3 separate regions of the Homo sapiens genome follow, and regions 1 and 3 are each linked to region 2. The links come from fine-mapping of genetic effects on gene expression. A gene starts in region 2. Each other region holds a variant in brackets. All regions are shown on one strand. Distances are between the middles of the regions. Region 1 overlaps TMEM276-ZFTRAF1 (TMEM276-ZFTRAF1 readthrough). Region 2 holds the start of C8orf82 (chromosome 8 open reading frame 82). Region 3 overlaps PPP1R16A (protein phosphatase 1 regulatory subunit 16A).

The links. PIP is the estimated chance that this variant, and not a neighbour inherited with it, causes the effect. A credible set is the group of variants that fine-mapping cannot tell apart.
Region 1: its variant is the best candidate, but not a certain one, in a credible set for the expression of C8orf82 in subcutaneous fat (GTEx, PIP 0.85).
Region 3: its variant is the best candidate, but not a certain one, in a credible set for the expression of C8orf82 in whole blood (TOPMed, PIP 0.88).

What each region holds. Positions count from the first base shown.
Region 1 is chr8:144,452,362-144,462,371 of GRCh38, reverse strand. It overlaps TMEM276-ZFTRAF1 (TMEM276-ZFTRAF1 readthrough), which reads left to right. Exons shown (of 5, transcript NM_001408018.1): 3 at 8,912-9,150; 4 at 9,802-10,010. ZFTRAF1 (zinc finger TRAF-type containing 1) reads left to right here. Exons shown (of 4, transcript NM_001330618.2): 1 at 1-89; 2 at 8,912-9,150; 3 at 9,802-10,010. Among named protein-coding and RNA genes, the nearest start is that of MIR10400, 5.2 kb to the left of the region's middle. The variant T/G (reference allele first, on the strand shown) is at 5,443.
Region 2 is chr8:144,526,085-144,536,094 of GRCh38, reverse strand. It overlaps C8orf82 (chromosome 8 open reading frame 82), which reads left to right and starts at 6,984. Exons shown (of 3, transcript NM_001001795.2): 1 at 6,984-7,334; 2 at 8,023-8,071; 3 at 8,308-10,010. The coding sequence starts at 7,179. The coding sequence ends at 8,753. It overlaps LRRC24 (leucine rich repeat containing 24), which reads left to right and starts at 9,062. Exons shown (of 5, transcript NM_001024678.4): 1 at 9,062-9,135. ARHGAP39 (Rho GTPase activating protein 39) reads left to right here. Exons shown (of 12, transcript NM_025251.3): 8 at 1,893-1,966; 9 at 2,770-2,969; 10 at 3,699-3,790; 11 at 5,224-5,393; 12 at 5,479-6,916. The coding sequence ends at 5,673. RefSeq lists silencers at 6,018-6,117, 6,849-7,438, 7,449-7,498, 7,456-7,750, 8,878-9,267 and enhancers at 7,479-8,335, 9,193-10,010.
Region 3 is chr8:144,479,055-144,488,686 of GRCh38, reverse strand. The region is part of intron 1 of PPP1R16A (protein phosphatase 1 regulatory subunit 16A); the gene reads right to left. Among named protein-coding and RNA genes, the nearest start is that of PPP1R16A, 5.9 kb to the right of the region's middle. RefSeq lists enhancers at 3,018-3,717, 3,718-4,417. The variant G/A (reference allele first, on the strand shown) is at 5,126.

The DNA of each region.
Region 1 (10,010 bases), 74 kb after region 2:
CGGCCGGCAGCGGGAAACTGGAGGAGCGGCTCTACTCGGTGCTGTGCTGCACCGTGTGCCTGGACCTGCCCAAGGCCTCCGTGTACCAGGTAGGGCCGCCGGCCGACCCCGACCCGGCCCAGCCCGGGGCTGCAGCCCCCGCCGCGGGGCCCCAGGATCCGCGTCTCCTCGGAGGCCAGGCCTGCGGGGCCCGGCGGCCGGGAACCCTCTCTGGCCCTTACAGCCACTTCCTCGCCCAGCGGGGCTCCAGCGGCTGCTCCGAAGCTCCTCGTTGTCTTTCTCTCAGGGCTTTATTTTCCGCTCGGGACCCCCCTTTTCTGTTTTCTGATCCACGGTACTTCCCGATCTGAATCGCTTGTCTTCCGCTTACCTCTCCCTTCTTTTTTCTAGACTTCCCCACGGTCCCCTGAACACTCTCCCAACCCACAGCCTCAAACTGATCCTTAGCCCGCAACTGCTCCCCGCAACCCACCCGGTCCCAAGCTCCCTGGGCTCAGAGTCCTGTGCTCGAGAGCTCCTTCCCCATTCTTCCGGCAGCCACACCCCCGAGTTTGTCCCTCCACTCCTGAACATCCTATGGACGCCTCCTTTTCTACCCTCCTGGGTGGAAGAATCCTTTCTCTTGGTCCATTTCCAGTTCATCCTGAAGAACAGTAAGGAGAGGGGATTGCTGTTTGTCGGGATGAACCATTTGCAACAAGCCCCACAGTTTGGGTACCTTCTCCAGTCCCAGCCAAACCCCACATCCAACTGGACTTGCCATGCCCCACGCTAGGCTCCTGCCCACCTCACCCAGGCCAGGCCAGGCTTCCTAGGCAGCCAGTGCTCCAGGAGCCGGCCCACCCCTCCTCCCCCATCTTCACATCCGCATGGCAGTGGGACTCAGCCCTTAAGCAGCCTAGGGCTGTTAGGGTACCTGGCCCAGGTGGGTTTGACATGCCCTTTCCCAGGTAGCAGCAGGGACAAACTGGTTGACACCCAGAGGCAGAGTACAGTGTCCCCACCTTCCCTGTGTCTTTCCCTCTCTTTCAACTCCCCAGTCCCTGTGAGAAATGAAGCAGGTTCTCTGTCAGCTTTCTTTACACTTACAGGAGCTGGAAGTAGCTAATGGGGCCTTGTTTCCCTGCTTGTGTTTGAATTGGGGGCCTGGATGAGGAGCTACTTTTGTAGCAGGTGGTGTAGGGCTAGTCTAGGTTGCCATTTCTCCAAACTCTGGATCTCCAAGTCCTTCTTGCTGTGGCATGACCTTGTCGGGAGGACCCCAGTGTGCCTGGGTGGGGAGAGGGCACTGGCTCTAACCCACCCTCCTGGGTGTCAGGCACCAGGGCCAGCTAGGGGAGCACTTTTCAGAGCCACTGGCTCCCAGAGTTAGCAGTTACTCCTTGGCTTTGGCAGTGCCTCAGCTTCCAAGATGTGCCCACTCTCCAGCTCCTTTTTCCTGGCTCACAACCTTCGATCCTCCCAGGCGGAAGAACTCTCCTTTTTTTTGAGACGGAGTCTCACTCTGTCACCCAGGCTGGAGTGAAGTGCCACGATCTCTGCTCACTGCAACCTCCGCCTCCCGAGTTCAAGCAATTCTCCCTACCTCAGCCTCCCGAGTAGCTGGGATTACAGGCGCCTGCCACCATGCCCGGCTGTTTTTGTATTTTTTAGTAGAGACGGGGTTTCGCCATGTTGGCCAGGCTGGTCTCGAACTCCTGACGTTGGGTGATCCGCCTGCCTCGGCCTTCTGAAGTGCTGAGATTACAGGCATGAGCCACTGCGCTTGGCCAGAACTTTTTCTTGGATCTCGAGGGAGACTCCAACAAGCCAAGCCAATGGTGTGAGGCCACGGGGGAACAGGGAAGTCTCCTTGTCTCCCCATTGGTGGGTGGGCTGGAGCTGTAGCTGGACCTGGTGGTGATGGGCCACATGGTACTGGTCCCTGGTGCACTGCATCCCCCATCTAGACTGGCCCGGCACAGAGTGATGGCTCTGCTTCTGACCGGAGCTCCTGGTGACCAGGCCTCTGAGCCTAGCTGGTTCAAACCGGCCTGCACTGTGCAGAGTGGAGTTCTGCTCTGGGCGGCCAGAGGCAGGGAGCTGAACAGGTGTAATGGAGACCGAAGGCGCTGGGGCTGCCCTGGCTGGTGGCCCTCCCTGGCCTGGGGGCTCTGTTCAGTGACTTCCCTGGGAACAGAGCAGCTGAGCGAGGAGTGCTGTGGGCACAGGCCTCCCTGAATGCTGCGAAGAACACCTCCGGCGGGTGGCTCTCGGCTGTGAGTGGTGCCCCTGGAAGGTCAACACAGACCTGGAGACCTGGGCTCTGGCCTGCTCTGCTCCCTGGAGAATCTGGGCACAGATGGTGTGGGCCCCCACATGCTGCCTTCTGCGTGTCCCTGGTTGGGCCCATGCTGGCCATCACCCCAGCTTGGGTTCAGTCTACCATATTCTACTAGCTTTCCTTGGTGACCACGTTGATTGGCTGTCTCGAGCCAGCCAGTGTCAGGAATGCAGCAGGTTCCACCCTCTGTTCCTGCTAGAACGCTTTTCCTGACCCCAGCAGAACACATGGCTCAGGGTGGGCACCAGCCAAGCTGGGGGCTGACTTAGACAGTCCCTGACTCTGGTGAGAAGAGGGGAGTGGCCATGCTGAGCTTTGTGTGTTCTCCCTGGCACTGGGGCTGTGGGGGACAACTCCATGGGCCTCTGGAATTGGCTGGGTCCTCAGTAACTCGAGAGCTTGTCATCCAGATACCAGATGCCACCAGTGCTGGCAGGGAAGCCTCGGGTGGTGCCCCAGGTCTGAGCCTTTGGGCCTGCAGGGCCAGCTGACCCATGGGCCTGTGCCCGTACGATGATGCCTCACAGGCTGGGAAACCTGCTTGGGTGTCAGACTGAGGCCCTCATGCAAAAGGTTTCCGCCACCGCCGAGTCCTGCCTCACGTCAGGTTGGGGCTGCAGCCAGTACAGCAAGACTCAGCTTTTATGTTCTCTGTGTGGGTGTTAGATATGTTCTGGGGGACTGGCCTGACAAGGTGTGCAGCCACCTTCTGGAGTCTCAGGTGGGTGGCAGGAGGGCTGGTGGGGCAGCAGTTACACCTGTGCAGGAGCTTCTGGCCTGACCAGGCCGCGCAGGTGGTCAGGTCGTTCCTGCCGGCTCCCTGCTCTGCGGCCCGAGGGCAGTGTGGCCTGTTGGCACCTCTGCCCATGGGGCACCTCCTCTGGGAAGAGACAGCCTCAGCGGTGCCCGGGACGTTGCAGCCGCAGCCTCATCCCTGACTTCTCTCCCTCCATTTTGGCCCTTCAGACGAGGCCCAGTGTGATGCTGCGTAAGACAGACCTGGCCCTGACCCTTCCTGCTGCTGTCAGATGAGGCCCTGGGCCTTGGTGCTGGCACCTGGAGGAAGGGACTGCGCATTGTTCCCACCCCTCATGGGGCATTCTTAAGGCAAAAACGGGCTCACTCGGGTGTAAGTGCCGGGCAGGGGCCTCTCACAGATGTGGTCCAGCCGCTCCCTCTAACTCGGCCCTGCACAGTGCCCTGCCATTCCCATGCTCTCCTGCCTGAGGTGTCCTCTCCCTGCCCCTGCCCACCTCTTGGGCCCGGCAGAGGCAGCGCCCCCACTTTGAGACTTTGTTCTCTCCTTGCTACAAGGATCCCCTCCTGCCCCATCTGACCAGGGTGTGTCCACTCTGTTCTGTGGGTGGGTTGGTGTGTGCCGTGGCCCTCCCGCCTGTAGCGCCCATGTCTCTATGCCACATGTTGACAGTCCATTGATAACAGCCCAGGAAGCAGAGATGGCTCCTCTCTGCCCGAGCCCCACACCCCCAACCAGGCCAACAGTGTGCAGTCCTGGGGGGGTGGAGTCACCATCCACATGTCCAAGGAGCTTCGGGCCCCTCTTCCCCAGTCTCCTGGGCAGCAGTACAGGACTGCAGCTGACTCGTTCTTTGAGGTGAGGAAAGTGGCAGAAAACATCTTTGTAAATACGTCTGCTTAGGTATCTAAAACACAGGAGCAAGGAAGATGTTCTGGAATCTCTGGCTAGTTGGAATTTTTGTTTTCTGTGGTGGTTATCATTTGAGTTACTTTTAGATCTAAGCAGCCTTGTTCTGAATGTGGGCCCGACTCTGGGGATTGATTGGCCACCGTTTGAGGTCTGACAGCAGTAGCAGGTGAGGGACTTCAAATCCAGCCTGGGTGGAGGGTTCGAGTCCTGGCTTCATGCTTAACAGCTGTGCGGCCTTGGACAACGTGCCAGTCCCTCTCAGACCCATGTTTGATTCGGGAGGTTAGGGGCCGAGCACGCGGGGTGCATGGGGTGTGCCCTGAAGCACCACTGGCCCTGGTGAGGCCTTGCCTGCATGCAGATGGCAGAGGAAGGGGGACCTCCAACTGGCTGAGCAGCGCTTTTGGGGTTTGTGCCACAGGGAAGCCCTTTGGCTGCATTTTGGCTCTGACGACCTCTGTCAAGGGCCTGTGGGTCCCTGACCCCTGGGTGAGCGAGGGCACTGCTCCCATGGGCCTGGGCACTGTGCCATCCTCCAGTGGCAAACAGGAGGTCCCCAGGGTCTGAGAGAACCATGCAGTCCAGGTGTGAAAGGGGTCCTACAAGGTCAGCTGACCATAGAGACCTTGGGACCACCAGGAAATCGTGGGGGCCCTCAGCCAGGGGATGGGGTCAGGGCTCCTTGAGCCTGTTCCGCCCATCTAGCTCCCCTTTAACCCCAGGGAAGAAGTAGCTCAGGTGGAGACCCTGGGTCTGCATGGGGGTCACGTGAGCTGCCTGTAGCCAGCAGGGGGGAGGGCTGGGTGCTGTCCTGAGGATGCAGGTGCAAATGGCCATTTCTGGGCCACCTGTGTGTATCAGCATCTGCAGAGGGGCCTGGGGTCTGGCTCCTGGGGTTGGCAGCCCCAGGGGCTCTGCCATGGCTGCCCAAGGTGGTGATATTTCCTGTCTGCCTGTTGGGTGTGGGGCAGTGCCACCCTGTCCCATCCCACCTCATCAGCACAGAATGAAGCTGGTCCTATACTCATCACCTGTGCACATGAGGAAACTGAGGCCCCAAGAGGGGAGCCCAAGGTCATATTACTGGGGATCTGTGGGCTGGCGTCTGAGCCCAGCACTGTGGCTTCAAGCCCACATCTGCCCTAGGAGGGCCCAGGAGGCCCTGTGATGTCATTCCCCCGTGATGTCATTCCCCCATGACATCATTCCCCTGTGATGTCATACATGTGACGTCATTCCCGTGCTGTCACCACATGATGTCATCCCCTGTGGTATCACCTCTGTGATGTCAATACCTCTTTTAATGTCATCCCCATGGTGTCATTCCCCCCATGATGCCATCCCCCCATGATGTCAGTCCCCCATGATGTCAATTTCCCACAATGTCATCCCCTGTAATGTCAATACTCCCTTTGATGTCATCCCCGTAATGTCATCCCCTGTGATGTCA[T/G]TCCCTCATGATGCCAGTGTGATGTCATCTCTGTGATGTCATTCCGTGATGTCACCCCCCATGATGCAATTCCCCTGCAATGTCATGCCCCTGTGATGTCATCCCCCGGTGATGTCATCCCCCCATGTGATGCCAGTCTCCCATGATGTCCCCCCTGTGATGTCATTCATGTGACATCATCCCGTGATATCATTCCCGTGATGTCTCCCCCATGATGTCATTCCCCATGTGATGTCAATTTCCCACGATGTCACCCCTCTGACATCATCCTCTGTGATGTCTCGCCCATGATGTCATCCCCCATGGCGTCATTCTTGGTCGTGGGGGGTTGTGGATCCCCTCCTCTCCCCTCCCTTGGGGTCTTCCTGGCTGGTGGGGAGAGGTGGCCTGGCCTGGGTGCCACAGCAGCTGCTCTGGAAGGTGCCCGGGCTCTTGGGGGCCTTGGCCCACGCCATCCCCTGGACTGTGCGGCGCCCTCCAGGGCCCAGCTTCTGTTGGGTGTTGGGCACAAGTCAGAATCAAGTGCATCTGGCCAGATGCTGCCAGGGCCAAGGATGCAGCTGCCTGTGGCCTGGCCTTGGTGTAGAGCCAGAGTCTTGCGCAGGGGCTGAGGGGACCCAGATGGTGGGGAGGCTCCGGAGCATGTGACCAGGGACCGTCCTGCTGTGGACAGACCTCCTGGGCTGAGTGTTGGTCGGGACCGGGCCATGCACCTAGAGATGTCCTTTGACCAGTGGGGAGGGTCTGGGGGTGAGTGTGGCTGTGTCCCTTGGCTACTGGGCCAGTGTAGTCCAGGGCACTCTAGGGACTCCCTGTGTTCTGACTTGAATGGAGCTATTGGGGCTGAAGGGGCAATGGCCCTGTGTCTCCTCGGAGCTTGCAGGTCCTCTTGGAGGCCCAGAGAGAGCCAGAGGAGGGCAGGGTCACTGCTGCCTCCTCATGGTATGGAATTGACTGAGCCCATGCTGGGATCTGGAGGCCCCAAAGGAATGAGGCCTGTGGCCAGGGGCCGGCCCAGGAGCTGGGGTGGCTTTCGGGGGAGAGGCCCGCAGTGCTGGGAGGTAAGTGGTGATGTGCTTGGCAGCCTCAGTGCTCCCTTAGGAGGGTCTAGGACCCCACCTCGAATCTTCCTGGGCTATGCAGAGCCAGGAAGAGAGGCCAGGTGGCCTTGGTGGGTGGCATTAGATGCTCCAGCCCTGCCTGGAACTCCCTTGGGGGTCGGGCCACAGCCAAGAAGAGTGCTGTTTTGCCTGTGCTAAGGCCACTGTACGTGCAGAGCTGGACCCAGAACCTCGTCCAAGGCCCCCGGCAGTCTCACCAGGAGGTGTTTAGAGCTGGCCACGTGGAGTGGCATACCTCCGGGGGGCGGGGGGCTGTGAGAGGACAGTGGTGTGGGCCCTTGGTCTGTGCCTCCCACAGGACAGCTGCTTCAATAGCATCTGTGCCCCCTCCTGCCTGTAGTCCACCCACCACTGACCCCTGGACTTGGCTGGCGGATTTTCACACCTTCTCCTGGGGGCAGGTCTCAGCTTGTCCCCAACCCAGTCAGAGCCAGTCTCACTCCCTGCCTCAGGCAACTGTGTATGTTTTAATTTTTATTTATTTATGTATTCATGAGATAGAGTCTCACTCTGTCTCCCAGGCTGGAGTGTAGTGGCACCATTTCGGCTCACTGCAACCTCCGCCTCCCGGGTTCGAGCCATTCTCCTGCCTCAGCCTCCTGAGAAGCTGAGATTACAGGCGCTCGCCACCATGCATGGCTAATTTTTGTATTTTTAGTAGAGATGGGGTTTCACCATGTTGGCCAGGCTGGTCATGAACTCCTAACCTCAGGTGACCTGCCTGCCTCGGCCTTCCAAAGTGCTGGGATTACAGGCATGAGCCACCGCCTGTAATTTTAATTTTTAACCAAACTGAGAACTTGAGGATTGAATGCAGGTAACGGGTGGTGTTCATGTGGATGTGGATTCCATGAAAGAGGGCTTTGTCCTCACTGTCGGTTCTCCACATGTAGGTCCTTTGACTCAGCAGGCCTTAGGCCTAGTCCACAGGTGCTGAGTGAACAGCCCCAGCGTCTGACAGCTCCTTAGCTTGGGGTGCACAGGCAGCTGAAGCAGTAGGATGGCAGCTCAGACTTCCCAGGGCCCCACGTGTGCAGGGCTGGCCTCCCAGCACCACCAGGCAGGGCCGGCCTCCCAGCGCCACCAGGCAGGGCCCTGTGAGTGTCCCCTCCCTGACACACACCTTGTAGAGAGGCTGGGCCTGGGCAGGCTGCTCTGCTGCACCACATCCCATTCTCAAGAGGGTCCCAGGTCCCAAAGGAAGCCTGTAGCCCAGTGGCTTTCTGGAGGTTTGCATGGCTGGCAAGCCTGGGCCGGCTGCTGGAGAGGCATCAGGACAGGAGCAACTCTGCTGACTGCTCCCCTCAGCGAGCTCTAAGAGTCTTTGGGTGGGAGGCACATCACATCCCTGTCACTCCTGGCTGGCCCTGGAATGCCTCAGCCCACACACCCCACTCCAGCCAGGGCTGTGGGAACTGTGTCTGCTCAGGTACAAAAGGCTTTGTTTGTTCTTGGACCTCTTGGTTCTGGTCTGGGCTTCCCACCTCCCATGCTGTGAGCCCCCACGGGCTGGGACCGCAGCTTGCCATGTGTCTCTCAGTGGCACCAAGTGGACGCTCGAGGCTTATGTTGAGGGAGTGAGAGCCAGGATAGGCCACTGGGCGTGCTGGGAGCCCACACAGGCAGGGAGCCCAGCGGGAGGTGCCCTGCTCCTGCCAGCCCCGGTTACCCCAGCAGGCTCGGCACCCACTCAGAGCCCCCATTTCTGCTCCCCAGGCACTCCCTGTGTGCCTACCTGCCCTTGTCCTTGTCCTGGGCCAGCTTGGCTCCTGCCTCCCAGCTCTGAGGAGGTCTCTGCAGGTAGCCAACCTCCCTGGACGAGGGGGCAGCTGCCTCCTCTCACCTGGGCTCACCCTGAGCCAAGTCCTCTCAACCCAGGATAAATGGCCTTTCTGAAGGCCCAGAGAGCATGCCTGCCCCAGTGTGGGAGCTGCATCCGCTCCCCACCTGACAGTGATGGCCAAGAGCCCAGTGTTCCTGGAGGGCTCCCAAACTCTGGACCTGTAGGGGGGTCAGGGCAGTCGCTGGTCCCTAAGGGAAAAGCGTGACCCTCGGCCCCAGGTGGCTGAACCCGTCACTGCCAGGGCGAGCTGTCACCTCTGTGAGCTGATGAGGCCTTGCTTTTAGGACCTCTAATCTCTGCAAGAACCCAAGCTGGCTCTGCCTGTTTCTCCTGAGCAGCTCGCAGTGTTCACCACACTCCAGCACGACTCGGGACAGGCACGTGCGCCCCTCTGCACCAGCTGGAGTCCCTCAGGACACCTGGCTGGAGCTGATGGGCATGGGCGGGTGTGTGCGAGCATGAGCCCGCAGGTCTGTGAGCTTCGTCTCCCTTTCCTTCTTCGCAGTGTACTAATGGTCACTTGATGTGCGCTGGCTGTTTTATCCACCTACTAGCAGATGCCCGGCTGAAGGAGGAGCAGGCCACGTGCCCCAATTGTCGTTGTGAGATCAGTAAGAGCCTCTGCTGCCGGAACCTGGCCGTGGAGAAAGCCGTGAGCGAGCTGCCTTCAGAGTGTGGCTTCTGCCTGCGCCAGTTTCCCCGCTCCCTCCTGGAGAGGCACCAGAAAGAGGAATGCCAGGACAGGTAACTGAGGGTCAGGGGCTTAGCCTTACAGGCGGGGCCCAGGACTGCTGGGAGCCCACCCTGGTGCAGCAGGGCCCTGTGCAGGGTGGTCTGGCTGTCTCTGCTGTCTGGGCCTTGGGGACCACCTGTGTAGCCCAGTGACGGCCCTGTGGGAGGGTGCCTGCACAGGATGGGGACAGGTGGGTTTTGCACCCAGTTGTTATCCGGACATGAGCCTAGCCTTCCAGTGCTCTTTGTGGCTGTGGGGGAGCCCCTTGAAGGGCCCAGGACAGCGTGTCCAACGCAGGACCTCAGGGAGCTTGGTGTGAGGGTACACTGCCCATGGCTACCCATCCAGTGGAGGCAGCCACCAAGTCTCCTGCAGTGAGGCTGTGCAGGACCACCACTGCCAAACAGAGGAGAGAACCACGCCATGGTGCGGGGCACACAGGCTCAAGCTTGCACTCTTCCTTCCCCTCTCTCTCCCTTTTTCTGCCTGTCTCCTTTCTCTCCACATGCTGCCACTCTGACCTCATCCTGGGGGGTGGGCTCACAGTTACGTGTGTCCTGCAGGAAGGGGTTCTTAGCTGGATGGAAGCCATATGGGAGGACAGCTTGTTGCAGCCTCCTGTTCGGGGCTCAGTCTGTGAGTGATGTACCTGCCTCCCCCAGGGTAACCCAGTGCAAGTACAAACGCATCGGCTGCCCATGGCACGGCCCCTTCCATGAGCTGACGGTGCACGAGGCTGCGTGCGCCCACCCGACCAAGACAGGCAGTGAGCTGATGGAGATCCTGGATGGGATGGACCAGAGCCACCGCAAGGAGATGCAGCTGTACAACAGCATCTTCAGCCTGCTCAGCTTCGAGAAGATTGGCTACA
Region 2 (10,010 bases):
TGGCGATGGGCACTGCCCACTATCCCACTGCAGGTCAGCAGACACCTTGGTGCCTGGCCCTGTGCCTGAGGCAGCGTGAGTGCAGTCATCCCCACCTTCCTAGACCTTAGGGCACAGGCAGCCTGACCCCCAGAGTGAAGTTGCAGGTGAAGTAGTGTGGCCTCAGTCCCTGGCCTGCCCACTACAGTTGTGACACCGGCAGCTGCCTGCTGAGCACTGCAACAGACAGGCATTGTCACAGTCCCCATCCTACAGAGGAGTAAACTGAGGCACAGAGAGACTGCATTATGATCACCTTCATCAGCTGAGAGGCGGTGGCCCCAGTGTATCCCAGTCACAGAGTGTTGGAGGGTGTCCCAGTCCCAAGCAGGCTCAGGCTGGGGTGTTTGTCCCACCAGGGGCCTGGGGACAGGAGATCAGGGCCTGTCTTCCCGCAGGGACAGCAAGCAGGAGGCCCAGCCCTGCCGTCTGCCCCAGGCCCCCCAGCCTAGTGACTACATGTCCCAGCTGCTGAGCTGAGGCCCTGGGTTTCTGCCGCCTTCCTGCAAAGCTCATTCCCTCCTTGCCTTCTTGAGGCTCTGAAGCCTGGGTCCAGTGTGCGTGGGCACCATCCATTCTAGAAAAACAAGGGTACCTCATAGCCTGCCCAGAGGGGCCCTTGGTTCCACATGGTCCCACGCTGGAGGCTGGGGCCACATCCTCTGCCAAGACCTGTGGTCCCAAGGACCATGACAGATTTTCTAGGACCTAAACGTCTATGAAAAAAAAAATTCATTTTGGTTCCTCTAAAAAAGAGTCTCCTTAGCAGTCACATGTCAACTATTCTGTGATAATTAGAGATGGACTCAAGACACGTGTGCACTTTTTTTTAACCTGGTCCAAGGACCCCATGCCCTCAGCTGTCCACCAGAAACTGCTCCTTCAAAGAAGACAAAGGTGTTCCGATTGGGGGTCAGGATCCAGAGGCCCCCCTCACCCTGGCAGGCGGTAGGCGCTGGGCGCTGGGGCAGGTCTCATGTCCAGAAGCACAGGGTCCTGTCCATCTGTCCGAGGTCCATGGCTCCCCTGGCCCCAGACAGCTTCTCTTGGCGTGTTCTCTCATCTGCTGCTTCCCGACCTGGAGCAGGAAGGTGCCGCGCCTTCCAGACCCAGCCTGGGAATCCTCTCCCCTCTAGCACCTTCCCCTGGGCTCTGTGTCTGGAGACTCCCCAGGCTGAGGTCCCTGAGTCCCTCATCAGGTGCTGACTCAGGCACACTGCCCCTCCCCTCAGGGACCCTGCTGTCGGGCTGAGTTTTAGGAAGCCCCTCCTTTGAGAAAGGAGACTGGGCCCTCTCATTGCTGCCTCAGTCCTTCAGAAGAGCCCAGAGGTGGTACTTCAGGCCCAGGGCTGCAGCAGAGCTGGGCTTGCTGTGCAGATAGCTCAGTGCCTGCCTCCCCCAGCACTGGCTGCGGGTGCTGGGTAGGTGGAAATGACTCCTCCAGGGGCTCCTGCCCACAGCCTAAAAGCCAGGGAGGGGCCTGAAGCAGAGAAGAGTCAAATACCTGGACAGCTCCCTGGGTCAGGCCCCGGGGAGGGAGCAGTGGGGTCTAGAGGCCCTCAGACCCAGGTCCTGCCCTTCCTGTTCCTGCGTGGCCGTAGGAGGGCAGGTGGAGCTGCCAGGCGGTTCCTCCCAAGCCTGTCCCTCTGCAGGTGGGGAAGTGCTCCTTGGGCCTCTGCTCTAAAGGACACTGCCTGGGAGAGTGTGAGGACCCGCTGTGCTGGGCAGGGGGTGACCGGGGCAAGGCCAGCCCAGCCCCCCAGGGCCCTCGAAGGAGCTGTGTCTGCTCACCCCTCTCCTGGCCCCACACCCACACACCCACATCAGGCTGATCAGGCCCCTTTCCTTTCCAGGGGTGGCGATAAGCACGTATGCCAAGTACTGTTACCACAAGCTACAGAAGGCAGCCCTGACCGGGGCCAAGAAGGTACGGGTGCGCCTGGGGGGCCGGGGAGGGCAGGCGGGGACACAGAGACCCTTGGTGGACAGCCCCAGGAGCCCCGCCTGCAGTTTGGTATGGGGCAGCAGCGCAGAGGGTGCCACATGGAGCCCGCCTAGGCGGGTGGCGGGGTACGCTAGGCTGACCCCGTGTTCTTCTGGGCTGCACCCTCCCCCGGGGGCTCTTCCTGGGCCCGGACCCCCAGCTCAGGAGCAAGGCAGGCAACGGGCTCAGTCACACCGCACCACAGGGACAGGACCCCGTTCCCTGGACCTGTCCCAAGAGCCTGGCCCCTTCCCCACATCCTCTTCTCTCTGATGCGCTGCTCCCATCATACCCCTCCCCAGCGCTCTCAGCCCTGCCACAGACTTCTGGAAGTTTCACCCCAGCTCAGCTAGCTTGGCCTCTGCTGTGCTCCCCAACAGCCCTGGCCGGCCCAGGACTCACTCCCACCTTCCCAAGGGCCCCTGTGAGCTGGTGCTGTAGACGGTGACTCTGGCCAGGGAGCTGGGCTTGTCCGTAGCTCTAGTTGGAGCCAGGAGTTCACAGGGATGAGAGGAGGGGGAGGCAGAGCCAGGGGCAGCCCAGGAGGAGTTAGGGTTTGGGGGGCGAGGAGGGCTGGTCCAGGGATGGACAGTGGCCTGGGGAAACACCACACTCGGACCCAGGTGTGTGGGGCAGGAATTCTGAAGAGCGCCACCCACCTATGTTCGGGGAAAGAAGACAACCGGGGTGGCGGGGGGTCCTGAGGATGGCCAGGCCAGACCAGGACGGAGCCTCTGTCTTCACAGGGGCTGAAGAAGCCCAACGTGGAGGAGATCCGGCATGCCAAGAACGCCGTGTTCAGCCCGTCCATGTTCGGCAGCGCACTGCAGGAGGTCATGGGCATGCAGAGAGAGCGCTACCCCGAGCGCCAGCTGCCCTGGGTGCAGACACGGCTCTCTGAGGAGGTGCTGGCGCTCAACGGTGACCAGACAGAGGGCATCTTCAGGTGCCACGGCAACCCCGGGCGCCGGGTGTGGGGGCCACAGCCATGTGTCCACCATGCATCTGTGGCATGCAGGGGCCATTAAGCCTCAGGCCCACTGGGCTGCTTCCGCACCCATACCTGAGAGCAGATGGAAGGGTGGGGCCACAGTGTGGAAGCTGACCCTGAGGGTGTGCAGGCCAGGAGAGAGGGCAGGACCCATTCCAAAGAGGCAGCACAGCCAGCCAGGGAGGGCGCCCCTGCAGAGACGGCCACCAGGGGTCCAGAGCGTGCTTGGACACCAGCCATGGGTAGCCTGGAGTGGGAGCCTCAGATGACAGGCAGCCCTTGTCTGTGAACAGGGATGGCACAGGGTGCCACCCACTCCCATGACTCACCTGTCAGGGCAAGGGGTACCCAGGCCCCAGGAGGGCAGCTGGGGAAACTGAGGCTTGCAGGTTGAGCCCCAGTGGCCCTTTGGTGAGGGCATCCACCCAGGGAGCCAGCAGGGGTCCAGGGAGGGACGGTGGCCTGGGGAAGCACCACACTCGGACGCAGGTGTGTGGGGCAGGAATCCTGAAGAGCGCCACCCACCCACGTTCGTGGGAAAGAGGCCAACCGGGGTGGCGGGGGGTCCTGAGGTTTTGCTCCCCTCCCCGGGTCAGCAGGGGCCTACCGGAGGGAGTGTCCAGGCGGAATCATGAAGCCGCAGCACAGGCTCCTGTTGCCTGAGACCTGCCCTGTGCCCTGCAGGGTCCCTGGGGACATTGACGAGGTGAATGCCCTGAAGCTGCAGGTGGACCAGTGGAAGGTGCCCACAGGCCTGGAAGACCCCCACGTCCCTGGTGAGTCCCCCACACACGCTGCAGCAGAGCGGGCCTGGCTCAGGCAGTGGTTCTCAGGGGCCCCTGTCTCCGCCTCTGGGGTCCACCCTGATCCTGCCCAGTGATGTGATGGCTTCCCAGTCACTTCTAGCACATCCTCCCTTCTGCCCATTGGACAGTTTCCCCAGGTGTCTGCTGGGCACCCCGAGGCCTACCTGTGCAATGCAGCCCACTCCCCACCTGCTGCTCCCTGCCCTGTGCCCTTCTGCCGTGCCTGCTATGTCTAGCCTACTCCCCACCTGCTGCTCCCTGCCCTGTGCCCTTCTGCCGTGCCTGCTATGTCTAGCCTACTCCCCACCTGCTGCTCCCTGCCCTGTGCCCTTCTGCCGTGCCTGCTATGTCTAGCCCACTCCCCACCTGCTGCTCCCTGCCCTGTGCCCTTCTGCCGTGCCTGCTATGTCTAGCCCACTCCCCACCTGCTGCTCGCTGCCCTGTGCCCTTCTGCCGTGCCTGCTATGTCTAGCCCACTCCCCACCTGCTGCTCCCTGCCCTGTGCCCTTCTGCCGTGCCTGCTATGTCTAGCCCACTCCCCACCTGCTGCTCCCTGCCCTGTGCCCTTCTGCCGTGCCTGCTATGTCTAGCCTACTCCCCACCTGCTGCTCCCTGCCCTGTGCCCTTCTGCCGTGCCTGCTATGTCTAGCCCACTCCCCACCTGCTGCTCCCTGCCCTGTGCCCTTCTGCCGTGCCTGCTATGTCTAGCCCACTCCCCACCTGCTGCTCCCTGCCCTGTGCCCTTCTGCCGTGCCTGCTATGTCTAGCCCACTCCCCACCTGCTGCTCGCTGCCCTGTGCCCTTCTGCCGTGCCTGCTATGTCTAGCCCACTCCCCACCTGCTGCTCCCTGCCCTGTGCCCTTCTGCCGTGCCTGCTATGTCTAGCCCACTCCCCACCTGCTGCTCGCTGCCCTGTGCCCTTCTGCCGTGCCTGCTATGTCTAGCCTACTCCCCACCTGCTGCTCCCTGCCCTGTGCCCTTCTGCCGTGCCTGCTATGTCTAGCCCACTCCCCACCTGCTGCTCGCTGCCCTGTGCCCTTCTGCCGTGCCTGCTATGTCTAGCCCACTCCCCACCTGCTGCTCTCTGCCCTGTGCCCTTCAGCTGTGCCTGCTCTGCAGACACCCCCTCACGGTGGCTACACAGACGACTCCTGAGAAAAATCCTGTTTTGCACAACTCTGCTGGCGTGACCCACATGCCTCCAGGATCGAGTTCAGGCCCCCAGGAGCCGAAAGGCCCTCTGGGGTCAGGGCCCAGCCTGGCCAGATGGGCCCTGTCCAGAATGAGCCGGCCCTCCCAGCCTGTCCCCCACAGCACCCCTCCATGCATGTCCGCCACGGGACCCCATTTGGCCCAGGGGTGCCCGCCGAGCAGGGCCGCTGAGCCCCGTGCTGTGTCCCCAGCGTCCCTGCTGAAGCTGTGGTACCGGGAGCTGGAGGAGCCCCTGATCCCGCACGAGTTCTACGAGCAGTGCATCGCGCACTACGACAGCCCCGAGGCGGCGGTGGCCGTGGTGCACGCGCTGCCCCGCATCAACCGCATGGTGCTGTGCTACCTCATCCGCTTCCTGCAGGTACTTCCCTCCCCGGGGGTCCCCGCTGCTTTCCCCTCCCCGCCCCGCCCCCGCCCCTCCGCGCCCACCCTCGCTCCTCCACCAGGTCTTCGTGCAGCCGGCCAACGTCGCGGTCACCAAGATGGATGTCAGCAACCTGGCCATGGTGATGGCGCCCAACTGCTTGCGCTGCCAGTCCGACGACCCGCGCGTCATCTTCGAGAACACCCGCAAGGAGATGTCCTTCCTGCGGGTGCTCATCCAGCACCTGGACACCAGCTTCATGGAGGGTGTGCTGTAGCGGGGGCGCCCGGGGACAGGAGGGATGTCCTGCCGCCCCCAGCCAGGCCGAACTCCGCACTCGCTCTCCCGGCAGAGGGGCCAGAATCGCCCGGCCCAGCCCTGGAGCCCCCTCCACTCCCCCAGGCCCCTGGCCCCGGCGCTCCCCACGTCTTCTGCCTGGTCTGAGGGTGCAGCCAGGGCACAGCAGCGGCGGGGAGGGCGCCTCTGGCCCCCCACCTCACGGCCAGTTCCCGCGGGCACCGCCTCGCCCTCCGCTGGCCGCGGGTCAGCTCCGAGAAAGTGCCTTCTGTGTCCTGGAGCCGAGCGACGCTGCCTCCTTGGGGCCGGGCTGCCTCCCTGTGGCTCCTGCGCGCCCTGGCCTGGGCCTTGCCCAGCCGCCCCGGTCTCTCCTTCCCTTTCTCCTGTCCTCGTCCTGGCCTGCAGCTCTTCCCAGCCCCGAGAGAGCTTCCCGACCTGTCCCCGCCTCCTCTCCCTCCCTCGGCCCGTGGTCCCCAGCTGGTGACTGCTCAGGAGTTTGGGGGCTCCAGGACAGTGGGCCCGGGGCCTGGCAGGCTCTCGGTGGGTGGGGTGGGGGCCCCCAAACCAAAGTCCTCTGGGGTAGGGAGCAGGGCTGGGCAGGCATTCTGGGGGCAGGGTGGGGGAGGGGCGAGAGTATTTTTTTCTTCGTGTAACTGTAAATCCAGAATCTATCCTGCATCGCAGCCCACCGTGTATAGAGATATAAATAGAGGGAAAGATATAAGAACTAAATTTGCTAATGACATAGTTTTAACCTAAATGCTATTTATCTCTGAGCCGTCCCCGTCCTCCGTGCAGAGCAAGTTGAGGTCATTCCTTCTTTTCTTCTCCGATCTTTTTTCTTGGCTTCTGACCAAAAACCAAGCTCTACCCCATCCCCATCCCAGACCTGCAGGAGACGAGCGAGCGGGAAGGCGCCGGGCCCGGGACTGTCCGTTCTCGGGGCCAGAGCTGCTGGGGGACCGAGTTTGTACATTTTCCATTTTGGAATTTTGAGTTCCAATTGTTGTAAAACTTAATTTCTCCCCAGTTTTTATATATATATTTTTTAGAGTTCCGTTTTTATTTATTAAAAACAAAAGCCCCAGCCCTGCCGAGGCCTGGGCGGCGTCCTCAGTCGGGTGGTCCCGGGGCCTTTGCGGTCCCGCCCGGCTGAGACGCTCGCCCCGACGCATGGACCCGAGAGGCGACGACACGAGTGAATAAAGTGCACATGGACCCTGCGCGTCCTCCCGTTCCTTGTGGGCGCGGCCGGGGGCGGGAAGAGACGCGGGGCGGACCGGAAGGGGCGTCACCGGCACACGCCTCTCGGAAGGCCAGGGCGGGCGAGCCCCCGAGGCCCGAGGGAGAGGGAAGAGCGCCGGGCCCGGGTCGCGGAGGCGGGCGCCGCCGGAACGCGAAGCGCGGGGCTACTGCGGGCAGGCGCGAGTTCGCGCAGCACCGCCCCCGGCGTGACCTGCTGGTCGCTTCCGGCGCGGGAGGAGAATGTGGCCGCCTTGCGGGACGCTCCGGACCCTGGCCTTGGCGCGGTCGCGGGGAGCCCGGGCCTGCAGCGGGGATGGGGGCGTTTCCTACACGCAGGGCCAGAGTCCGGAGCCGCGGACCCGCGAGTATTTCTACTACGTGGACCACCAGGGCCAGGTGGGCGGGGGCAGGGCCGTTGCTCGAGAGGCGGGGCCGGGAGAGGTCTCTGGGCGGGGCGGGGGGGGGGGCGTGGCTCTGTGGGCGGGACCATTGCTCGAGGGGCGGGGCCGGAGGGACGTTCCAGGGGGTGGGTGGGTGGGCGGGGCCTGCGCGGTGGGCAACCTCGACTCCTCAGAGCTGGAGGAGAGCGCGCTGGAAAGACGGGGAGTTGGGTCGGTCCGGGCCGAGGCTCCTACATGGGCCGCGTCCCTGCTGCGTTGTGCAGCTTCGGACTCTGTCCTACAAGTCCCCAGCCCCGGCGCTGACTTCTCGCCGCTGCCAGGGAGACACCCGGGCCGCCCTGCCTTTTTTTGGAAGCCCTGTCAAAAGGCAGCTGCATGTCCGGGAGGCAGCAGGCCAGGTAGTCTCCGCGGAGGAGGTGGTACAACTGATTACAAACTTGAAAAGAGGGAAAAGGTGCGGGAAAGAATTGGCTGACCAGGGAGCAGAGGTGCGCATAGACGCGGATAAGTCGGCGGGGCCCCCAGGTTTACCTTTCACGCGCCTCCCTGCATGCGGTGTGCACAGACAAGCAGGAAAAGTGGGCTCGGGCCGGTTCAGGACCTCCCGAGCTTCAGGACCTCCTGAGCTTCCCCGCCCCCACCTGCACGCTGGGACTTATCACGGCCTGGCCCTCTATCTGCAGCTTTTCCTGGATGATTCCAAAATGAAGAATTTCATCACCTGCTTCAAAGGTAATGCTGTGCCTCCCTCTCCAGCCCCTTCTTTCTCCCTTCCGGGCAGCCCCTGATGGGCTCCCCGACTCTGCCGACGGGCCCAGCGCACCAAGGAGTGGGCGTCCTGCGCTCAGGAGCCCCGCTGAGTGAGGCCAGGCGAACCTCTTACCGTCGGCGCCTGCCCTCGGTATGGTCCTGGGCCCGGAGGCCTTGGGAGCCCAGCGCGCTGAGTACACGCACCCTTCATCCCCCAGACCCGCAGTTCCTGGTCACCTTCTTCTCCCGCCTGAGACCCAACCGCAGCGGGCGCTACGAGGCCGCTTTCCCCTTCCTCTCGCCCTGCGGCAGAGAGCGCAACTTCCTGCGCTGCGAGGACCGGCCGGTGGTCTTCACGCACCTGCTGACCGCGGACCACGGGCCTCCGCGCCTCTCCTACTGCGGCGGTGGCGAGGCCCTGGCCGTGCCCTTCGAGCCGGCGCGCCTGCTGCCCCTGGCCGCCAACGGGCGCCTGTACCACCCGGCGCCGGAGCGTGCGGGCGGCGTGGGCCTGGTGCGCTCCGCCCTGGCCTTCGAGCTCAGCGCCTGCTTCGAGTACGGGCCCGGCGCGCCTGCGCTGCCCTCGCACGTGCGCTGGCAGGGCCGCCGCCTCGCCCTCACCATGGACCTGGCCCCGCTGCTGCTCGCGGCTCGGTCGCCCTGAGCGGGGCCAAGGGAAAGGCGGGAGGCCGCGGGCGCCTCTCGCCCCGCTCCCCCGGGACTCCACGCCCCGGAAAGCCCGCGCCACCCGCGCTCGCGGCAGCCTAGTGCGCCTGCGCGCTCGGCCCCGCCCCCACCCGGCGCTGTCCTTGGTGCTGCCGCGGCCCGGCCCTCCCGGACACCCCGCTCCCCACGGCGCGCGCCCCCCGCGCACCCGACTCCGGCGCCCTCCGGATTGGCCTGCGCTCGAGACGTCAGGCACTGGCGGCGGGCGCGGGGCTCTGGTGCGCGTGCGCGAGCGTCCCCCGCCCCCTCCCAGCCCGGCGACTGCTCGGGCCCGGCCGCCACCTGCACGGCGGGGGAGCCGCTCGCCGCGGGAGCGTCAGGTGAGGGGACGCCCGACCCAAGGTCACCAGGCGTGGGGGCGCTGGGGGATCGGGGACCATCCCGGCTCTGACCCTGGTGCGCTCCGAGAAGGGCGTGGGTCCTGGAGGGGGATGGGGAACGCGGAGGCCACGCCCTCCCTGAGCCCGGCCGAAAATCAACCGGCTCTCGTGGGTAGCAGAGGAGGCCGTGGGGGATACAGGCACCAGGTCGCAGCGCTGCAGAGGTGCGCAAGGGCCGCCCAAAGACCAGCTTGGGCCTCGCACTGCGCCCGAGGCAGACACAGGGCGTTCCATCCTCTTCCCTCCCCGCTCCCGCACAGAGGGGCGCCCAGGAGGCAGTGACAGTCGTCGCGGAATCCTGCGTGTGACACCCCGCCCCTGCCCAGCGGATTAGGGAGTTGTCCTCTGGTAAAAGGATTTCTGGGCTGCTTCCAGCTTGGGGCCCTCATCCCTGCCCTGGCAGGCCTTTCTACACCGATCTGCATCTAGTGGGGGGTCAGCGTGAGCAGCAGCGCCGTGAGTTCTGAGGCCAAGAACCTTCTCCACTTGAGAAGCCTTCCTGGGGGAGGCTGAGTGGGCCAGGCCTGGAGCCACGTACCAACACTTTATACCCAGGGGAATGGATCCCAAGGGCCCAGATAACGCCCCCAACTTCTTGGGGTTCACACGCGTCCTGAGACATCTGGGAACTGCCTCTGCCTGGGCCAAAGCTATTCCATTAAAACTTTATTGCTGTGCTTACTTATTTCTAGTGACTTTAAATAATCATGTGAGTTACAATTTAGGGCAAGATTTAAACACCAAGGCCACTTGGTCCTGTCCCTTTCCACATGACTCGAAAGGAGGAAGAGCTGATGGACAGGCAAATGTTTGGG
Region 3 (9,632 bases), 47 kb after region 2:
CCATCGTTGCCCAAATTCCTGGTGGTCTAATGTTCTTGTGGACAAACCTTTGTGGACTGCCTATCCCCTCTGAGCCTTGACCTCTTCTCTACACCAGTGTCCTTATCTTCTGGCCAGCTGTGCTCCATCACCACCAGTAACTGCAGCCCATGCCTGTCACCTCCATTCAACATCCCACTCTCTGCCCATCGCCTCCTCTCTGCCTGGCTCGCTACTACAAGCCCTGACTCCAACACTCCAGTGCCTCCCTCGCTGCCATGCCCTCACCTTGCCCCATGCCCTCCTGCTCCCACAGCCCCAGTGACTCTGAACATAGCAGAGCCACTCCCTCAAGGGCTCTGACGCTTGCAGAAATCTGCTTCCCTTGCCTTTTCTCTCCTGCCCTCCCAGACAAAGCAAATTCCCTGGAAAGAGCTTCCCTTGCCTTTTCTCTCCTGCCCTCCCAAAGCATATCCCCTGGAAAGAGCTTCCCTTGCCTTTTCTCTCCTGCCCTCCCAAAGCATATCCCCTGGAAAGAGCTTCCCTTGCCTTTTCTCTCCTGCCCTCCCAAAGCAAATTCCCTGGAAAGACAGAGGCTGTCAGGGGAGGATGTCCACTCCTACTTAGAACTGAACAACAGAATAGCACCCAAAAGCCTCAATGCCTCGGAATAAGCCTAACAAAAGATGTACAGAGTAAACCACAACCATATCTTTATGGGAAGATATAGGAGGAGACATCTCGTTATATGTTGCAAAACCCAGAACTGAAAAGATGTCATTTCTCCCCAAATTCATCCAAGATTTGACGTAGTCCCAATCAAAACCCCAACAGTGTGAGACTCACAAGCTAATGCTCCACTTATATGGAAACACAAAAGGCCAAGAACACTAGGGATAAGCCTGAAAGAGAACAAATTTGAAGTACTTACACTATTAGATGTCAAGACTTATTATATACAGTTTGGTAAGTAAGACCTAAGTTACTGGCTTAGGCATAGAGAAATAAACCAATGGAATACGGTTGAGTCCAGAAAATTGCCAGATGAGGCAGCTCACACCTGCAATCCCAGCAATTTGGGAGGCCGAGGCAGGAGGATCACTTGAGCCCAGGGATTCAAGGCCAGCCTAGGCAAAACAGGGAGACTCTCATCTCTACAAAATTTAAAAAATTAGCCAGGCATGGTGGTGCACCCCTGCAGTTCCAGCTACTTGGGAGGCTGAGGTGGGAAGATCACTTGAGCCTGGGAGGCAGAGGTTGCAGTGAGCCGAAATCAACACTGCACTCCAGCCTGGGGGACAGAGAAAGACTCTGTCTCTGACTGTTTTGTTTTGTCCCCAAAACAAAACAGAAATAAACCTACACATGTGTAGACATGCAATTTATGACACTGCTGGGAGTGGAAAAGCCTTCAATAAATGGTGCTGGGGCCAGGCGCAGTGACTTACGCCTGTAATCCCAGCACTTCGGGAGGCTGAGGGGGAAGGATTGCTTGAGATCAGGAGTTCGAGACCAACAGGGTGAAACCCCGTCTCTACTAGAAATACAAAAAATTAGCCGGTTGTGGTGCCACACACCTGTAGTCCCAGCTACTCTGAAGGCTGAGGTAGGAGAATCGCTTGAATCTGGGAGGTGGAGGTTGCAGTGAGCCGAGATCACACCACTGCACTCCAGACTGGGTGACAGAAAATAATCAAAAAACAAAAAAACAGAAGAAAAGAAAAGAATCTTGACCCCCACCCCAGGTGAAATGCAAATCTAACGTAAAGGTAAAATAATAGCACTTCTACAGAGTGGTGACACCAAAAGCAAAAGCACAGTCTATAAAACGGAAAACGGAAAAACTGGACCTTGACAAGATTAAAAACTTTTGCCTTGCTAAAAACCCTGAGAGGAGGATGAAAAGACAGCTACTGAGTGAGTAAATATCCACAGACCACACACAGAACAAAGGACTGCTGTCAAGAACACACGAGTCTCAAAAAATCAGCAGTAAAAATGAAACGATCCAATTAGAAAATGGGCAGAGGATGCAAAGACACACCTCACTGAAGAGGATACACAGATGGCAAATGCGTCCGTGACAAGATGCTCAACATCACCCGCCATTCGTAAAATGCAAATTAGAGCCACAGCGAGATACCGCTGCCCACGAATCCAAACGGCAAGGATGTGAGGACAAAGGAATCTCACAGGAGCTGATGAAAACCTGTGAAATAAAACAGCCACCACTCTGGAGAGCAGTGTGGAAGTTTCTTAAACCAAAACAGCTCAACATGCAACTCCCAAACCACCCAGCAGCTGCGCTCACGGGCCTTTATCCCAGAGAAATGAAAATTTAAGTCAGGCGTGGTGGCTCACGCCTGTAATCCCAGCACTTTCGGAGGCTGGGGCAGGCGGGATCACATGAGGTCAGGAGTTCAAGACCAGCCTGGCTAACATGGCAAAACCCCATCTGTACTACAAATACAAAAATTAGCCAGGTGTGGTGGCGCGAGATCACACCACTGCACTCCAACCTGGCAACAGTGTGAGGCTCTGTCTCAAAAAATAAAAAAAATTAAGTCACACAAAAAACTACATAAATGTTCATGGCAACTTTATTCATAATAGCAAAAAACTGGGGGAAAAAACCAAATGTCTTGTAACAGGTGAAACATGATGGTCCGTCCATCCATACCATAGACGTTTCCTCCAGTCAAAGGAACACACTAGTAGTGCACACAACTGGATGGACCTCAGGACATCACGCCGACCTCAACGCCCACACCCTGCAGCACTCCATTTATGGAGCATTCTCGTAATGGTGAAACCATACAGATGGAGAACATACCAGTGGCTCTCAGGGGTTCAGGCTGGGAAAGGGAGGTGGCTGTGGCTGCAAGAGGGCAGCTCAAGAGGTCCCTATGGTGGCTGTGCTGCATCTTGGCCATGGGCTCACACAAACCCTACAGTGACAGATGCGCAGAACTAAACCACACACACACAGGTAGACACATGGAAAGCTGTGAAATCTGAATAAGGTCAATGGAGCACATTGGTGTCAACATCCCCTTGAACTGCTGTACTCCATTGACAGGTGCAACGTTACCACATGGGTACCCGGGAAGTCTACAAGGGATCTCTGAGCCATCTCTTTTCTTTTTTTATTTATTTTTCTTTATCTATTGTTTTTTTTTTTCCCGAGATGGAGTGTTGCTCTGTTGCCCGGGCTGCAGTGCAGTGGCGCAATCTCAGCTCACTGCAAGCTCTACCTCCTGGGTTCGTGCCATTCTCCTGCCTCAGCCTCCCGGGTAGCTGGGATTACAGGTGTGTGCCACCACGCCTGGCTAATTTTTTGTATTTTCAGTAGAGACACGGTTTCACCATGTCGGCCAGGCTATTCTTGAACTCCTGACCTCAAGTGATCCACCCACCTTGGCCTCCCAAAGTGCTAGAATTACAGGCATGAGCCACTGCGCCTGGCCTTTTTTTTTTTTTTTTTTTTTTTTTTTTGAGATTCTATTCTTTTTTACTGGTTCTTTTGTCAATCCTTGAGCCTGTCCCACATGTCCTCCTCACTATGGCTTCCTAAGGAGCCTCCTCTCTGGTCCCACCTCTGAGGGGGCTGACTCCTACTCACACTCTGGTCTCAGCCTCCTTTCTGGCCCCTGGCATGAGATTCTTCATTCTGCCTCGGCCTCCCGAAGTGCTGGGATGACAGGCGTGAGCCACGCACCCGGCCTCTTTCCCAGTGATCTCAGTGCTCCTCAGATTCCCCCTGCATAACACCCAGCAGCAGAACCATATGAAATTGAAACTATTCCACTATTTTTTATCTACAAACACAAATCATTATTTACCTCAGTAACAGCTGCCTGGCTAAAGCCCTGTGAGGGAGGGAAGACCCCGTGATTTGGACATTTGCACACATCATGCTTCCAGCCCGGGACAGGAGATACGCGTGGACCACACCAGGGACTGGCCCGCTAACCATGAGCTCTCACGCAATGTCTGTCAGGGGCTGGAGAATTGGGGAAGCCTCTCCCCAGAAACCAGGGGAAGCGTTGCATCTCCCTCTTCAATTTCCTTTCCCCTTGCCACCTGGCTTCAAAATAAATCGAATAAACTAACTCACAGCAAGGTGTCAAAGGCCCAGATGCCTAAATGAAAGAAGCTGGCAGCCTGAGGCATCTGCATTTGAAAAGAGACTCAACGAGAACTGAAGATAAAAGCCAGCCCTAGACCAAAAGAAAGGGAAGAGAGGGCAGGGAGGGCTCCTAGCAGCCCCTGCAAATCACACCTTTCTAGAAGCCAGGGCCACAAGCAGCCTTCCCTATGAACTGCCTCATTCAGCCTCATAGCTCTAATGGGCCATAACCCCCACGGAGTAGATGTGGCAACTAAGGTCTGTCAAGTACAATGGTGAGGAAACCAAAATCACAAAAGTGAGCTTCAGAGGGGTCGGCGCTGTAACCCAGGATTTGCTCTGACTCGGTATTCACTTCCTCACAGAGACACAGACCTTTCGGTCTAGGTGGGGCTGTGGGAAGGGGACCTGCGGACAGACGTGCCAGTGGCACAGGGCCTGGGAGTGTGGAAGGAGGCAGCACTGGGACCGTGAGGGTCCCCAGCCTTAGGACAACAGAGGTGTGGGGTCTAGACAACCAACCTAGGGCGCAGGTGACACAGTAAGCCACTGAGATGCCTGTGAGCCTGGGACAGGAGCTGGAAAGGCATTTCCAAGAAAGAGAGCTCACAGTCAGCCAGCACATTCCTAGAAGTTGGAAGGAAAGATGGTAGGAGCTGTCAGAGCAGAGAGATGAGCAGGGGAAGGTGGCCAAGGAAAAAGAAAACAGGGAAGGGCTGGGCATGGTGGCTCACGCCTATAATCCCAACATATGGGAGGCCAAAGCAGGAGGATTGCTTGAACCCAGGAGTTTGAGGCTGCAGTGATCTCTAATCACACCACTGCTCTCCAGCCTGGGCAACAGAGCAAGACTCTGTCTCAAAAAAAAAAAGAGACCGGGCGCAGTGGCTCATGCCTGTAATCCCAGCACTTTGGGAGGCCAAGGCGGGTGGATCACCTGAGGTCAAGAGTTCGAGACCAGCCTGACCAACAGGGTAAAACCCCATTTCTACTAAAAATACAAAAGCCGGTCGTGGC[G/A]GCATGCACCTGTAGTCTCAGCTACTCAGGAAGCTGAGGCACGAGAATCACTTGAATCCAGGAGGCAGAGGTTGCAGTGAGCCAAGATGGTGCCACTGCACTCCAGCCTGGGCGACAGAGCAAGACTTCGTCTCAAAAATAAATGAATAAATAAAAAGAAATAAAGAAAACAGAACGACACAACACATAGGATGACAAAGTTCAAAAAATTCACGTGATGAAGGAGACTGATGATGCATGAAACAGGAGGAAAGCCTTTGAACTTGAAGCCAGCCAAGAACATCATTTGTAGGAGGCAGGAATTGGGACACTGGACCCACAGATGAGGAAACCTACTTTACACACACTGCCTGGTTCTGTAGATAGAAAGACTGACATGTGAACATCGTTACAGAACAGAACGTAACTCTGTCAGCCACACAACATAAAAAAGAAGGCATATCCTACTTCTGGGTACATACGCAAAAGAAATGAAAGTTGGGCCGGGCGCGGTGGCTCACACCTGTAATTCCAGCACTTTGGGAGTTGAGGGGGGCGGATCACCTGAGGTCAGGAGTTCAAGACCAGCCTGGCCAAAATGGCAAAAACCCGTCTCTACTAAAAATACAAAAAAATAAGCCGGGCGCGGTGGCTCACGCCTGTAATCCCAGCACTTTGGGAGGCTGAGGCGGGTGGACCATGAGGTCAGGAGCTCAAGACCATCCTGGCCAACATGGTGAAACCCGTCTCTACTAAAATTACAAAAATCAGCTGGACGTGGTGGCGGGCGCCTGTAGTCCCAGCTACTCGGGAGGCTGAGGCAGGAGAATCGCTTGAACCCAGGAGGCAGAGGTTGCAGTGAGCCTAGATCACTGCACTCTAGCCTGGCGATAGAGTGAGACTGTCCCAAAAAAAAAAAAAAAAAAAGTTAGCTGGGCATGCTGGCATGTGCCTGTAGTCCCAGCTACTCGGGAGGTTGAGGCAGGGAGAACTGCTTAAACCCGGGAGGTTGAGGCAGGGAGAAATGCTTAAACCCGGGAGGTTGAGGCAGGGAGAACTGCTTAAACCCGGGAGGTTGAGGCAGGGAGAACTGCTTAAACCCAGGAGGTGGAGGTTGCAGTGAGCCAAGATTGTGCCACTGCACTCCAGCCTGAGCAACAGAGCAAGACTCCATCTCAAAAATAAGTAAATAAAAATAAAATAAAAAATAAGAAAACTATAAACTGGCCAGGAGCGGTGGCTCATGCCTATAATCCCAGCACTTTGGGAGGCTGAGGCAGGCAGATCACTTCAGGTAGTCTGGCCAACATGGAGAAACCCCGTCTCTACTAAAAATACAAAAATTAGCTGGGTGTGGTGGTACATGCCTACAGTCCCAGCTACTTGGGAGGCTGAGGCAGAAGAATCGCTTGAACCCGGGAGGCCAAGGCTGCAATGAGCCGAGATGACACCACTGCACTTGGCAAGACTCCATCTCAAAAAAAAAGGCGGCGGCGGCGGCGGCGGCAGCCGGGCACAGTGGCTCACACTGGTAATCCCAGCACTTTGGGAGGCCAAGGCGGGCGGATACGAGGTCAGGAGTTCGAGACCAGCCTGGCCAGCATGGTGAAACCCTGTCTCTACTAAAAATACAAAAAATTAGCAGGGCATGGTGGCAGGCGCCTGTAGTCCCAGCTACTCAGAAGGCTGAGGCAGGAGAATTGCTTGAACCTGGCAGGCGGAGGATGCGGTGAGCCAAGATCGTGCCACTGCACTCCCGCCTGGGCAACAGAGCAAGACTCTGTCTCAAAAAAACAAAAAAGAAAAAAGAAAAAGGGAATCAACTACGGATACACAAAACCACTTGAATCTCTAAAACATTGTCATCTGGCAAAATAAATCAGACACAAAAGTATTCATTCCATATGATTCCATTGATGTGAAATTATTTTATTTTTTGAGATGGAGTTTCGCTCTTTTTGCCCAGGCTAGAGTGCAATGGTGCGATCTCGGCTCACCGCAACCTCCGCCTCCCACGTTCAAGGGATTCTCCTACCTCAGCCTCCCGAGTAGCTGGAATTACAGGCATGCGCCACCATGCCTGGCTAACTTTTTGTATTTTTAGTAGAGACAGGGTTTCTCCATGGTGGTCAGGCTGGTCTCGAACTCCCAACCTCAGATGATCCACCCGCCTCAGCCTCCCAAAGTGCTGGGATTACAGGCGTGAGCCCCCACGCCCAGCCAATGTGAAATTCTTAAAAAGGGACGCCAAACCTACAGTAATAGAAAGCGATCACTATTGCCTGGGCTGGGTGTGAGGAAGGGCTTACCACAGAGGAGCACGAGAGAACTTTTGGGGGCAACGGAAATGTTTTATATTTGGATTATGACGTTGTTCACAAAACCCATCAAACAGGCCGGGCGCGGTGGTCACGCCTGTAATCCCAGCACTTTGGGAGGCCGAGGCGGGCGGATCACGAGGTCAGGAGATCGAGACCATCCTGGCTAACATGGTGAAACCCCGACTCTACTAAAAAAATACAAAAAATTAGCCGGGCGTGGTGGTGGGCGCCTGTAGTCCCAGCTACTTGGGAGGCTGAGGCAGGAGAATGGTGTGAACCCAGGAGGCGGAGCTTGCAGTGAGCCAAGATCGTGCCACTGCACTCCAGCCTGGGCGACACAGCATGAGACTCCGTCAAAAAAAAAAACCCATCAAACAAAACCCATTAAACAAAACCCATCACACAAAACCCATTAAAATAGGTGCATCTTACTGTAAGTTACACCTCAATAAAGTTTGATGTAAAAAATCAAAGCATGGGCTGGGCACAGTGGCTCACGCCTGTAATCCCCGCACTTCGGGAGGCCAAGGCAGGAGGATAATGAGGTCAGGAGTTCGAGACCATTCTGGCCAACACGGTGAAATCCCATCTCTACTAAAAGTACAAAAATTACTGGCCGTGGTGGCATGCGCCTGTAGTCCCAGCTACTTGGGAGGCTGAGGCAGGAGAATCACTTGAATTCGAGAGACGGAGGTTGCAGTGAGCTGAGATTGCACCACTGCACTGCAGCCTGGCTACAGAGCAAGACTCTGTCTCAAAAAAAAAAAAAAAGATATAAAAATTAACTGGCATGGTAGCATGTGCCTGTAATCCCAGCTACTGGGGAGGCTGAGGCAGGAAAATCATTTGAACGCGGGAGGCAGAGGTTGCAGTGAGTGGAGATTGTGCAACCGCACTCCAGTCTGGGCGACAGAGTGAGACTCCATCTCAAACAAACAAAAAAACAGAAAGCCACATGGTCAGCAAAGCCTAAAATGTTTGCTGCCTAGCCCTTCACAGTAAAAGCTGGCCAACCCCTGGTCTAGCACATTTATTTGGTGCTACCAGCTTCATCATCACCGCCACCTTCATCAGCTGCTCCTTCTGTCTGGAAAGTTCTTCCACCGGATCTTAGGACAGCATGCTCCTTTGTGGGACTCGGATCACATCTTAAGTGCAACCTCCTCAGAGATCTTCTGTGGTTACCTTGTCATTCTCTTATCTCATCACCTTGTTTTAATTCTTGACATGCCAGTTACTGTTTGTTTCCCTGTTGCATCCTAAGAACTTGGCCAGTTCCTGACTCATAGGCAGCACTCAGTAAGTGCAGTGAGCTGAACAAGTGAACAGCTGCTGAGCCTCTGGCACAGGGGTCCCAGCACAGGATGTGACATGGAAGGCTCTGAGCTCCTGGCTGAGCAAGTCTGATGAAAAGGCCTCCCTTTAGGTGTGCGTGCACCAGTGCCAGGAGAGCCTCGGCATGAAAGAAGGGCCTGGAACTGCCACCCAGTTCTCATTTTGGCCAATGGATAGATGTGGCACAAGTGCTAGGGTTAGGACACGCTCGGGGAAGAGCAAGGGTGGAGCTGGGGGTGCTGGTAGTCTGTGGGGTCACCTGAGACTGAGGTTCCTAAGCTGCATGCAGTGGAGAGCTGTATCAATCGGCTGTTCATTCAGACCAGAGGTTCAAGAATCCCTAGAACACAGACCCCAAAGTACAGTCATACAGGAGGAGCCCCCTTGCTAGGTGCCAGCCCAGGCAACCCTCGGGGCAAAGCAGAGTCCAAGTGCATCCCAAGCAGGTGAGGGATGAGGCCAGGACAGGCCAATCAGAGACACGAGGGATGGCCCCAGCCAACAGGGAGGAAATCCAGCTCGAGCACCAGGAGGGGGAAGGACCCCCTAAAGCCACCCCCATCCCAACCCCAGCCCGGGGGACTTGGGGCAGGGGCAGGCAGCTGGCCCTGTAGAGCTCTGAGCGTCCACCACAGTGACAGGTATGGAGCCAGCATGTGTGCAAGTCCACCAGGCAGCCCCCAGCCCCTCAGGCAACCCAGCCGCACGCCGCCGGAGCTCCTCTCGGCGAGTCGTGGCTCTGGGTCCCTGAATCAGGCAGCGCAACCAGAGGCCTCTTCAGGAGGCCCAGGGTACTGCAGGCAAGACCCTTCTCCCAGAGAAACCCCAATACGTCCAGGAAGCAACTGGGGCGCCAAGACGCCCAGGAGGGC